Regions from separate parts of the Homo sapiens genome. Here regions 2 and 3 are each reported to be linked to region 1. The links are microRNA targets in miRTarBase. Many come from high-throughput screens and were not tested one by one. Region 1 holds a microRNA gene; each other region holds the end of a gene's coding sequence.
What was found. The annotated mature microRNA hsa-miR-589-5p reads UGAGAACCACGUCUGCUCUGAG and lies in region 1 at 2,595-2,616, opposite strand. An mRNA with a match to its seed (bases 2 to 7 or 8) in the 3' UTR can be bound and repressed. Matches are read on the target gene's strand: a 7mer-m8 pairs with bases 2 to 8, a 7mer-A1 pairs with bases 2 to 7 and ends in A, and an 8mer does both.

Region 2: miRTarBase lists MAP3K8 as a target of hsa-miR-589-5p. Seed matches in the 3' UTR shown: 8mer at 818-825.
Region 3: miRTarBase lists IPPK as a target of hsa-miR-589-5p. Seed matches in the 3' UTR shown: 7mer-m8 at 2,694-2,700.

The regions. Positions count from the first base shown.
Region 1 is chr7:5,493,279-5,497,487 of GRCh38, forward strand. MIR589 (microRNA 589) reads right to left here and starts at 2,639; the gene lies at 2,541-2,639. All of the region lies in intron 3 of FBXL18 (F-box and leucine rich repeat protein 18), which reads right to left. RefSeq lists enhancers at 1,783-1,862, 1,933-1,982.
Region 2 is chr10:30,460,217-30,464,425 of GRCh38, forward strand. It overlaps MAP3K8 (mitogen-activated protein kinase kinase kinase 8), which reads left to right. Exons shown (of 9, transcript NM_005204.4): 9 at 490-1,617. The coding sequence ends at 620. Among named protein-coding and RNA genes, the nearest start is that of MAP3K8, 28 kb to the left of the region's middle.
Region 3 is chr9:92,612,130-92,616,338 of GRCh38, forward strand. It overlaps IPPK (inositol-pentakisphosphate 2-kinase), which reads right to left. Exons shown (of 13, transcript NM_022755.6): 13 at 1,054-3,928. The coding sequence ends at 3,703. It overlaps CENPP (centromere protein P), which reads left to right. Exons shown (of 8, transcript NM_001012267.3): 7 at 394-485; 8 at 890-4,209. The coding sequence ends at 1,020. Among named protein-coding and RNA genes, the nearest start is that of IPPK, 56 kb to the right of the region's middle.

The DNA of each region.
Region 1 (4,209 bases):
GAGCTAGGATCGTGCCACTGCACTCCAAGCTGGATGACAGAGCAAGACAGTCTCGATCTGTTGCCCAGGCTGGAGTGCAGTGGCGTGATCTCAGCTCATTGCAAGCTCCCGGGTTCACGCCATTCTCCTGCCTCAGCCTCCCGAGTAGCTGGGACTACAGGCGCCTGCCACCGCACCCAGCTAATTTTTTGTATTTTTAGTAGAGATGGGGTTTCACCGTGTTAGCCAGGATGGTCTCAATCTCCTGACCACTTGCTCCACCCGCCTCAGCCTCCCAAAGTGCTGGGATTACAGGCGTGGGCCACTGCACCTGGCCAAAATTTTTTTTTTAAAAGAATAAAGGAAGTGTGGCTCATGAGAGACTGGTTATTTACTTTTGTGTGTGTGTGCGTGCGTGCGTGCGTGCGTGTGTGTGTGTGGAGACAGGGGTCTCACTATGTTGCCCAGGCTGGTCTCCAACTCCTGAGCTCAAGCAATCCTCCTGCCTCAGCCTCCCAAAGTGCTAGGATTATAGGCGTGAGCCACCATGCCTGGTAGTTAATTTTCTTTTAATTGATTTAAGCAGAAATTCTCAGCCAGGTGCGGTGGCTCACGTCTATAATCCCAGCACCTTGGGAGGCTGAGGCAGGCGGATCACCTGAGGTCAGGAGTTCGACACTGGCCAACATGGCAAAACCCTGTCACTACTAAAAATACAAAAATTAGCCAGGCAGGCCGGGCACGGTGGCTCATGCCTGTAATCCCAGCACTTTGGGAGGCCGAAGAGGGCAGATCACCTGAAATCGGGAGTTTGAGACCAGCCTGACCAACATGGAAAAACCCCATCTCTACTAAAAATACAAAATTAGCTGGTCGTGGTGGCACACACCTGTAATCCCAGCTACTCGGGAGGCTGAGGCAGGAAAATCGTTTCTACCTGGGAGGCAGAGGTTGCGGTGAGCCAAGATGGCACCATTGCACTCCAGCCTGGGCAACAAGAGTGAAACTCCATCTCAAAAAAAAAAAAAAAAATTAGCTGGGCGTGGCGGGGCATGCCCATTATCCCAGCTACTGGGGAGGCGAAGGCAGGAGAATTGCTTGGAGGCAGAGGATGCAGTGAGCTGAGATCACACCACTGCACTCCAGCCTAGGTGACAGAGCGAGACTCTGTCTCACACAAAAAAATAAATAAATAAAATTAAATAAATAATAAAATAAAACATCCAAATTGTCTTTATTTTTCTATATTTGTTTTGTTAAGCTATTCAGATTGTTTTTATTTAAAGATAGTAATAAAATGTTTTCATTACGTATATTTTAAATACCACCTCTCCCTAAAAAAATCCTAAAGTAAACAACCCTTTGCAGACCGGAAGGTGGGAAACGGGAAGGGGTAAAAAAGACGGTGCAGGCGCCGCACCTGCTGAGCTGCAAAGTCACCTCTGGATTTCTCTCCAAAGCAAAAGCAGGAGGCTCCAGACAGCAGGAGATGGAAACGGGGCGTTGGGCAAGGACGGTGCCGTCGTGTGGTCACTAGGTGGCGATGCGGCTCCGTGCTACCCGCCCCAGATCGCCCCGAGCCTCTGGGGTTAAAAACCAAGTCTGCAGAGCGTGGAAAAAAAACCTTTTTTCCACGAGATAACCACATCCACATTCTTCCGCCCCGGAGGAAGTCACCTGTCACAGGTGTTCAGGATGTGGCAGGCCCACGGGAGTGACTGGTCAGGCAGCGGGCCTGGCACGTCTAAAGCTTCCTAGGCTCCCACAGCACGCCGCCTGGGGCACGGCACCCAGGACGGTGGCAGAGCTGACCTGACTCGAGTGACCGGCAGCGTCTGCAGGGAGGATGGGGACGAGGAAAAGGCTCCCACTGCGCCGGGCCTCACCTTTGAGTGAGGATCCAGCCTCCCCATTCTGCTCCCTGAGGGGGCACCTGGGTCTCCTGGTGACTCTGTGGGCATGAAAGGTGCTGAGCTCACAGTGCGGGGGCTCCCATCTGGCCACCCACTGCACGGGCCGTGAGAGCAGCACCCAGGCCTCCGAGGTGTCCCTAGGGTGGCTCCGGGGCCTGGCTCTGAAAAGGATGGCCCGCTTCTGCCCAGACGCTGCCCTGGTCACGCTCACAGCAGCCCGGGTGACTCAGGGTGACACGCTCCCCCGCCCTCCACCGCAAGCAGGGCTTAGCTGGTCTAGGGAAAGAAGGTGTCTTTTCTGCCCAATTTGTAATCCCCTTACTACTGAGGTGTGTCCAAGTCCCAGCCAGAGCGACTCCTTCCTGCACCACCCCCTCCCTGCCAGGAGCCCCAGCAAGCACAAAGCTGGGGGTCACGGTGTGGGGGCTGCCAGTGGCAGCAGGTGGCTGGCGTGGGATTCCAAGCTCTGCCACCAAAGAGACTCCGGCCGCCCCAGGATGCGGCCTCGGAGCATCGTGCCAGCCTCCAGGGATCCCAGCGCCGTTTCCTCTGCACAGCTCCTGCCCACGGGCAAGCGAGTGCCACCTGCTCCTTCCACTGCAGCGTCCGGGCTCCCTTGCCGCAGAAGGCAGGAATCCAGAGGAACGGGGCCAGCTGGCAGCGTCTGGGAACCGGCATTTGTTCTGAACAGGCAGTACCCAGCTCAGAGCAGACGTGGTTCTCAGGGGCTGCTGGGCACAGGCTGGAGTTTGTCCACAGAGATGGCATTATGAGCAGGGTCGGTCTCTCAGGCTGGCCCACAAAACCCACAAAACCCACAGAACCCGCAGGCCTCTCCGCGCCTTCTCCATGGCCCTGCTCCTGAGGAAGGCCCTTGGCCACGGGGATTCCGTCCCAGACTCCGGAGGCCATCGGGGACCATGAAATCACGCTGACCTCGGGAGGCCGGAGACAAGCAGCCATGTGACCTAGGCAAGTTCATGCACTCTCTGGGCCTTACTTTCTTCATCCATTAAGTGGGTACAACTGTGTCGACACTCAGAGGTTGTTGAGAATATCAAAGGGGTCAAGACCTGTACACCCATGAAAAGCACCTGGCAGAGGTCACATGAGCCCAAAGGTCCCCTCCACCCGCGGTGGCTGCCGTCACCTCTGCCTCTTGCTTCCGGAACACCCCCTCCCTCCGGCCAGTGCCTCCCTTGCTGACAGCCTCTGCTCGGTCTCCCTTCCACATTCTTCTTCCTCTTCCTGGCCAATCCTTGTCACGTGTGCCCCAGCCCAATCCGTGGGCTCACCTGGATCCATAGGTGGCTAAAGGCCACCTATGAGCTGAGGACGCCAAAGCAACTCTCCCAGGCCAGACCTCAGCCTGGACTCAGGGCTTGGCTTAGGCCCATCAACTAGGAGGCCACACTTAACAGACTCTCCGGACCGGGCACAGTGGCTCACACCTGTGATCCCAGCCCTTTGGGCGGCCCAGGCAAGAGGATCACTTGAGCCCAGGAGTTCAAGACCAGCCCGGGCAACACAGCAAGACCCCGTCTCTACAAAAAATACAAAAAACTAGCCAGGCGGCCGGGCACAGTGGCTTACGCCTGTAATCCCACCACTTTGGGAGGCCGAGGTGGGCGGATCACCTGAGGTCAGGAGTTCGAGACCAGCCTGGCCAACATGGTGAAACCCCGTCTCTACTAAAAATACAAAAAAAAAATTAGCCGAGTATGGTGGTGGGCACCTGTAATCCCAGCTACTCTGGAGGCTGAGACAGGAGAATCGCTTGAATCCAGGAGGCAGAGGTTGCAGTGAGCTGAGATCATGCCATTGTACTCAAGCCTGGGTGACAGAGTGAGACTCTGTCTCAAAAAAAAAAAAAAAAAAAAACTAGCCGGGCATGGTCGCATGTGCCTATAGTCCCAGCTACTCGGGAGGCTGAGGTGGGAGGATCACCTGAGCCAGAGAAGGTCGAGGCTGCAGTGAGCTGTGATCATGCCACTGCACTCCGGTCTGGGAGACAGAATGAGACCATTTTTAAAAAAAAAAAGTGGGAAAGCCCAAATTTTACATGCATTTTGCGTCAAATTTCTAAAGCAGGGAGATTCTGAAAAGTCGCCCGTCTGGTTCTCAAAGCAGTCGCCCGTCCTGGTTCTCCAGGATGCCTGGGTCAGAGCATGAATAACCACCCCGCTCCCCACGCACGGAGCCTCGCAGTGGCTCGAGCTGAGAATCAAAGCGGCCGATCCAGGGCCTGGTGACTCCACCAGACAGGAAATACAGAGGCTTCTAGCAATCTGCTCTGCCATTTGAAAGTCCTGGGTTT
Region 2 (4,209 bases), not on the chromosome of region 1:
TCAGTTTGAAGTCAACTTGCATTTCCATCTTCCTTGGCTTAAAATCTTGCCAGTTGTAAATTTTTCCCACTTAGGAAAGTCAGTATGCTTTCCAGGAGCATTGAATATGCATAAAGAGGGATTTCCATTTTTATTAAAAGTCTGTGGCATTCTTAATCCATTTAGGTCCAAACCGAGATGTCAAGCCTGGTGCGCTTGTTTATATTTCTTTGCTGCTTGTCTAACTTTTGTGTATTTAAAGAGAGCAATCTGGCTGTTGGAAAAATATGCCAGGATTTCTAACTAATTTCTTGTCTCCATTGACTCCTGTTTGAACTTTTTGTTCTATGTCATATTATGTGAACTTAGCCATAGTGTTCAAAGACCCATCTTTCACGCTTAAGACACTGTTTTATTAGGCCCCAAAGATTTATTTCACTGCAGAAGGAACAGGTATTTATCATTTGACACGTTTTCTTGTTACTTACTTTGTAATGTTTTCCTTTTCAGATTCTTCGTGCACAGGAAGCACCGAGGAATCTGAGATGCTCAAGAGGCAACGCTCTCTCTACATCGACCTCGGCGCTCTGGCTGGCTACTTCAATCTTGTTCGGGGACCACCAACGCTTGAATATGGCTGAAGGATGCCATGTTTGCTCTAAATTAAGACAGCATTGATCTCCTGGAGGCTGGTTCTGCTGCCTCTACACAGGGGCCCTGTACAGTGAATGGTGCCATTTTCGAAGGAGCAGTGTGACCTCCTGTGACCCGTGAATGTGCCTCCAAGCGGCCCTGTGTGTTTGACATGTGAAGCTATTTGATATGCACCAGGTCTCAAGGTTCTCATTTCTCAGGTGACGTGATTCTAAGGCAGGAATTTGAGAGTTCACAGAAGGATCGTGTCTGCTGACTGTTTCATTCACTGTGCACTTTGCTCAAAATTTTAAAAATACCAATCACAAGGATAATAGAGTAGCCTAAAATTACTATTCTTGGTTCTTATTTAAGTATGGAATATTCATTTTACTCAGAATAGCTGTTTTGTGTATATTGGTGTATATTATATAACTCTTTGAGCCTTTATTGGTAAATTCTGGTATACATTGAATTCATTATAATTTGGGTGACTAGAACAACTTGAAGATTGTAGCAATAAGCTGGACTAGTGTCCTAAAAATGGCTAACTGATGAATTAGAAGCCATCTGACAGCAGGCCACTAGTGACAGTTTCTTTTGTGTTCCTATGGAAACATTTTATACTGTACATGCTATGCTGAAGACATTCAAAACGTGATGTTTTGAATGTGGATAAAACTGTGTAAACCACATAATTTTTGTACATCCCAAAGGATGAGAATGTGACCTTTAAGAAAAATGAAAACTTTTGTAAATTATTGATGATTTTGTAATTCTTATGACTAAATTTTCTTTTAAGCATTTGTATATTAAAATAGCATACTGTGTATGTTTTATATCAAATGCCTTCATGAATCTTTCATACATATATATATTTGTAACATTGTAAAGTATGTGAGTAGTCTTATGTAAAGTATGTTTTTACATTATGCAAATAAAACCCAATACTTTTGTCCAATGTGGTTGGTCAAATCAACTGAATAAATTCAGTATTTTGCCTTAGTTGTTGTGAAGCCTGTGATTCTCAGCTGGGACTGAGGATGGGCTATAGGAGTTGAGTTATAGATTGGAAGGAAATGTGTATCATAAGAAGGCAAAAAATACCAGGAGCTTTGCAAATTGTATTAATACACTCCTTTTCTATTGCTCTTGTATGAAGCTATTGTCAGCTGGAATGGTTTGCATCCCCCGGTACATTGAGGTAGAAAAAACAATTGTGGTTGTGCCTGTAATCCCAGCACTTTGGGATGCTGAAGCGGGAAAACTGGTTGAGCCCAAGAGTTCAAGACCAGCCTGGCCAACATGATGAAATCCCATCTCTACAAAAAATACAAAAATTTGCCAGGTGTGATGGTGCATGCCTGTAGTCCCAGCTACTCAGGTGGCTGAGATGTGAGGATCACTTAAGCCTGGGAGGCGAAGGTTGCAGTGAGCCAAGATCATGCCACACTACACTCCAGCCTGGATAACAGAGGGAGGCCTTGTCCCTGCTAAAAATAAAATAATAATTGTGTGCCACTGGTTTAGGGTTATGTGGTTCTATTTTGCACCCTGTTTTTATATATTTATACTATCCTTGAATACACGCTTGCATACTCTTTGCCCATTGTTATGTGGCAAGCTAATAACTAGCCATTGTAGAAGGTGGCTTTAACTCACATACATCAACTCTAGTGAAAACTGTTGAATGGAAGTCTGTCATCTACATAGCAAATAGTATTAAACACTTTTACATGTGTTGTGTAAAACATGCCATCCCTTGTAATCCATGTAAACACACATGAAATATGCATTGCTACCTCTTTTTTCTCAGAGAAGGAAATTGAGGCATAGTGAGGGTAAGTAACGTTATCCTCAAGACCGCAAAGCAAGTGAAGAAACAGCTGGTATTTAAACCCAGTCCTTTCTGGCTCCAGTACACATGTTCTCCCTCGTACGTTGCTGCTTGTAAGTGAGAGATCAACACTGCAGAGGAAACAATTTCCTTTTCTGCCCCTCTGGTAAGGGCAGAGGCAGACTGACCATGAAGCTAATGAAGCTTCAGCCTCAGGGCTCCTCACTTGCATGGGCCCCTCCATAGCCCTGTGCCTGATTTTTTTTAATGTATTTTTTATTTCAGTGACTTTTGGAGTAGAAGGGGTTTTTGGTTACATGAATGAGTTATGTAGTGGTGAATTATAAAACTTCAATGGACCCATCACCTGAGTAGTGTATGTTACACTCAATGTGTAGTTTTTCACCCCACACACCTCCCCCCCTTTATTTTATTTTTTTTGAGAAGGAGTCTCACTCTGTCACCCAGGCTAGAGTGCGGTGGCATGATCTTGGCTCACTGCAACCTCCGTCTCCCAGGTTCAAGCAATTATCATGCCTCAGCCTCGATAATCCCAGTAGCTGGGATTACAGGCATGCACCACCATGCCCAGCTAATTTTTGTACTTTTAGTAGAGACGGGGTTTCGCCATGTTGGCCAGGCTGGTCTGGAACTCCTGACCTCAAATGATCTGCCCACCTTGGCCTCCCAAAGTGCTGGGATTACAGGTGTGAGCCACTGTGCTCAGCCCCACCCTCCCCCATTATTTCACTCTGTATGCCTTTGCGTATTCATAGCTTAGCTGCCTGTGCCTAATTTCATATCACCCTAGATCAGGCCCAACAAAACTTGGACCTGCTCTTGGTTAAAGGTATACAGCTTTTGATAATTTTCATGAGATACTCACATAGTCAATATGAATTGAGTTCTAGTTAACAAATTCCATTTGGAGAAAACCATTCTCTCTTTTTTTTTTTTCTTTTTCTTTTTTTTTTTTAAGATAGAGCCTCACTCTGTCGCCCAGGCTGAAGTGCAGTGGTGCCGTCTCGGCTCACTGCAACTTCCGCCTCTGGAGTTCAAGCGATTCTCCTGCCTCAGCCTCCCGAGTAGCTGGGACTACAGGCATCCGCCACCATGCCAGGCTAATTTTTGTATTTTCAGTAGAGATGGGGTTTCACCATATTGGCCAGGCTGGGAAAACCATTCTTTTGAAATAAATTGGAACTCTAATGGAGAGAAATGGGGATGATTGCTAAGAGCTGATCAATAGTGTTGGTGGCTGAGGAAGCGGTCGTGAGAGAGAACTATGAGGGGAAGTTCGGGGCTGAGAGCTCTGTGTGCACTGAGGACTTGCAGAACTGTTCACCTGGGAGGCCAAAAGTTGCACCCTAGGATGAGTCACCAGAGAATCAGCTCAAGAGGAGCAAGGAAGCCCCAAGTGAATTCCAAAGGAATGCACTACTCACCCCCTTATGAGAAGATGGGCAGTGGGGCTGTCAGGCTTGAGTATAGTTAGAATAGAATAATCATGTCCTGAAAGCTCAGCCTGGGCAACATTACAAGACCTCATCTCTAAAAACAAAAATTAGCTGGATGTGATGACTCATGCCTGCAGTCCCAGCTACTTCAAAGACTGAGGCAGGTGGATTGCTTGAGCCCAGGATTGCAAGTCTGCAATGAGCTATGATCATGTCATTGCACTCCAGCCTGGGCAACAGAGTGAGACCCTGTCTCTAAAACAAACAAACAAAAACAAAGAAAGCAACTTCCAGCCACTTTGA
Region 3 (4,209 bases), not on the chromosome of region 1:
TAAGCTTCTCCTGGGCTCAACTGCCTAGAAATGAAATTCCTGTGTCATGCATGGATGCATGTTCAGCTTACTGTCAGTGCCAGATTATTTCCAAAGTGGCTTGTCCATGTCTGCTCCCACCAGTAATTTTGAAGTTTCTGTTGCTCCATGTTCTGTACTTCGCTGGTATTGGCCTACTAATGTTTGCCAATGCAGTGGGGACAGAGCAGCACCTTCCTGTGATCCTGGTTCCATTTGCCTGTGCTACTGACTGTGCCTCTTCTTGGCTGTGGATTGGGGTTTCTAGCAGGGGAGCCCAGCATGGGGAAATGGAGACCAGGTGCGACTCATGGTTGCTAATCTTTTCGCCAGATTTCAAAAAGCACATAACGACATGTTTTACTGCTTTTTCAGGTTTGAATTAGTCATTGTTTGGAGGATACAAATAGATGAAGATGGGAAGGTTTTTCCAAAGCTGGATCTTCTCACCAAAGTCCCACAGCGAGGTAGGGCCCTGGGTGTGGCTGCTCTAGGTGACTTCTCAACATGCCCAGCAAAGCCGCCTGCCTGTTTCCTCTGGGTTTCAAAGGGCAAGAATCAAAAATTGGAAATCTCATTAATGTACTTTGTCTATCAATTTTTAAATATTTTTATCAATAATCACTCAAAAAGAACATGAAAAGGGATTGCTGCCCCAAGGCCCTCCCAGGCTGAATGCACAGGGAATATGCCTCCAGCCGTAGGTGAGGCCTCCACTCACTCCATCTCCTCGCCCGCCACTAGCATGTCCCATCCCATGCAGCTAGTCGGGAGGAGTGCGGGGTCTTGGTGAGGTCCATGCCAGCAGAAAACAAAAGACCAAAAGCTGCCACCTTGAAGTTTCTTACCCGGTTTAATGTTTTCTTTATAGCCCTGGAGCTGGACAAGAACAGAGCCATAGAAACTGCTCCTCTCAGCTTCCGAACCCTGGTAGGACTGCTTGGAATCGAAGCTGCTCTGGAAAGCCTGATAAAATCGCTTTGTGCAGAGGAGAACAACTAGTTCCAAAACAGTGAACGTGGAGGATGAAGATGCTGCGTGGAGGAACATGCAATTTTATTCAATATAAACATTTGCTATTTTCTGCTTAGAAACCACACCCTGAAGACGTGCTGTCTATGCAGTTATGGCACATTATATGGAAACTCTCATGACATGAAAAATAAATACAACTAGTTAAGTATAAAATGCCAAATAAAAGTGACACGTACAATGTGGTTTATAAAAATAAGCTTAACATCTGAGAAAATGTACCAAGTGGTTGTGTGTCCTCAGATGTGTGGGGAGGATCCATCCCCCACCCACTGCAGCCTCACACCGAGTCCACCTTGGACATGGTGGCCACATTACTCAGCTGGGAGAAGCCACCCTTATCCTGGTTCCTGCCTCCTGGGGGCTCTGGAGACGGATGCCTATGGCGCCTCATCTTTAAACTGTCCTTAGTAGCCCAGGGGAGCCACACCCTCACTCCCTGCCTCCCCCCGGTCCGCATGGTGGCACCGTGAGGCAGTCTCAGCAAGTCCTCATGCTGTTCTTGGTCTTCCACAAGAAAGTGAAGCTGTCAGCTTAATAACAAGAATGGCCTAAGACAGCAAAGACAGCACTGTTCCTGGGCTGGGACGCAAGGAATGAGGTCCTTTATGAAAGAAAGACCCCCCTGCATAGCCTAAGTGCTATATCGATCGTCCCGGATGTGCCTTAAGAACCGTGACCTCATCAGTCGCCCATTTAGCATTGTTAAGATCTGTGAACGCGTGTTGTCTCAAACCAGTCAGGGCCGTCATGACTACGCAGCAGCAGCAGTTTCCAAGACGGGCCAGAAACGCATCCACAGCAGTGGCACCCGCGGCTCAGGGGCTCCTCACAGCCCGGGCTGGTGGGAGCCAAGACCAGACAGAGTGGGGGTCTCCATCTGTTTTCTCTTCTCCCTCAAATACAGGCTGTTTTCATCGTGTCTAGTCCAGCCCTGTCTGGGCCCTGTGCTAGGCAATAACTCTTGCAGCCCTGAAGGACCTAGGGAGCCCAGCCCACCTTCCCACGGACTGGGGTTCCCTCACATGTGCACTTGAACCCAGGACCCAGCATCCTCCACACACCGTGACAATGGGCAAAATCATCCCAAACCAGGCTGCCCCAGCCCCAGCCCAGCAACAGTGAACTCCCTTGGGTCAAGACAGTACTCAACGGCCACTACCTCCACGCTTCCCAGAGCCTGCGGCTTGTCCGTGAGCTCCGTGCACTTCACCAAAGCCCCCATCCCAGCACACAGGACCCGTGTGTATGAGACGGTGTCATTGGAAGTGAGAAGAAAACAGTAAAAGTGTCCAGTTAGATAAGTATCTTTTTGCACCTCTGAGAGTAGAATTAGAAGTAAATATGACAGAATTGAACAATAAATTCTAGAAGAGTTGCCTTGATTCAAACAAGTATAATTCTCAAGTTATCACAAAATTTCCCACAAAAATTTACAATCAGCAAAATAGTTTCCTTATTTCTCATGTATCATTTTCATATAATTCCATGGTTTCACTAATATTATATGTTACAATAAGCCTCCATTAGTCCCTCAAAACGATGATATAAATAAGTCTGTACAACCTAGCATAGAATAAAAAACTGAAACCAAGATTCCCAACGTTTTTCATAGCAGCCGGGCACACTTTGGTGACCCCAACGAGAACCCTCTCGGCAGCAGCCAGGAGCTGTTCACCTTCCAGAAGCAGGGCCTGTGGCAGCCTAACAGGGAGAGGCCACGGGGCCCAAAAACGCAACACGTCTCAAGGCAAACCCGAGGGAGGAACTTGGTCTGGGAGGAAGAGAGAACTCGCTCCTCAACCACCCCAGACACTGGAGTGTCAGGAAAGCACTGAGCTGTTGGGGCACACTGCCCAGCCCGGCCACAGCAGCTCAGCCAGTCACAGCTCCACCTCCAACTTCTACAGCAGCAATTTTTAGTGGGAAAGAACAGCTCATCTCCCCCTCATGTGAAAGATTAAATTGTAAAGCAAAAAAAAAAAGGTCAATGCTCGCATGAGTGGTGTCCATCCTGACCTGAGCCTTGCGCTCCCTGCTGCCCTGTGTGGAACTGTGGGCTTCAGCACCTCCACAGGGACCCTGAGTCTACACTGCTCAGAATCGGCATCTGCGCGACCACGAGGTCACGCTGTGCAGCAGGGAACCACCTAAAAACCTGTGTTGATATGTGGCTTGCACTGAAAAAGTGACCATGTAACTCAGCTGGGGGAAGTTCCAGTAGTATCCATGTTTTCTTAAAAGTCCAAACTGTAAAATGTATGTGACAATTCAAGTTTTCTATGTTAGGAGTCTGGTGGTAGCAGATCCAAACCTTGGGTCTTAGAATAAGGCTTTTCGCATTAGAGAATCAGACATGAGCCCTGGTTGGGAAAGAAGAACTATCCAGAACGTCTTCCCAGGGCTTAACGGACACTTCCATTTTAAGAGTGTGAGCAGCTTCCTGGGACACAGCACTCACTTCCTACATTCCTTGTCCAGGAAGTTGTTTCTAGTGCTCTTCAATTCCATGTCTCCAAGAGGCAATCCCACCTCAAAAGGGGTTAAAAGCAAAAACATTCACAACCAAAGGTCACCCAACACAACAGAAAATATCTCTATCATTCAGCCTTCACATTATGTTCAAGTTTCAAAGACACTGCAGGGAAAGAGTTAGACCTTGTGGAGAACTAATGTGCAATCTTCGCTTTCCTTGAACCGAGTCGACATCACGGCGTTGTCTTTGGCACGTACAGTCTTTGAATAATAGTTGACGATCTTGCCGTCCAGTTTATACTGATGGGGAATGCTCTCGTAGGGCTTGAGGTCAAGGTCCAGCACAGACACGGAAAAGGCAAACCTGGACCTCGATGAAGGGACGACAGGCCTTTGATCAGAGCTGCAAGTAAAAAGTACCATTTCAGGATACACAAGCCCCCCATTCATTTCCCTCCCTCCCGTTCTCTCTCCCTTTCTTCTTTCAACTAGTATGTTTTTATGTTTTTTCTTTGACTTCTGCAAAGTTAGATAAATCAATCTCTTTTAAAAGAGAAGTGAATGGCCTCACACCCCAGCTCACAAAGAGCACTCGTTCTGTGCACCTGTGATCTGTGCGTGTGACAGCTGTCTGTGCCGGCTGTGTGCACCAGCGTGCAAAGCTTCCTCAGGCCAGTGCACCCC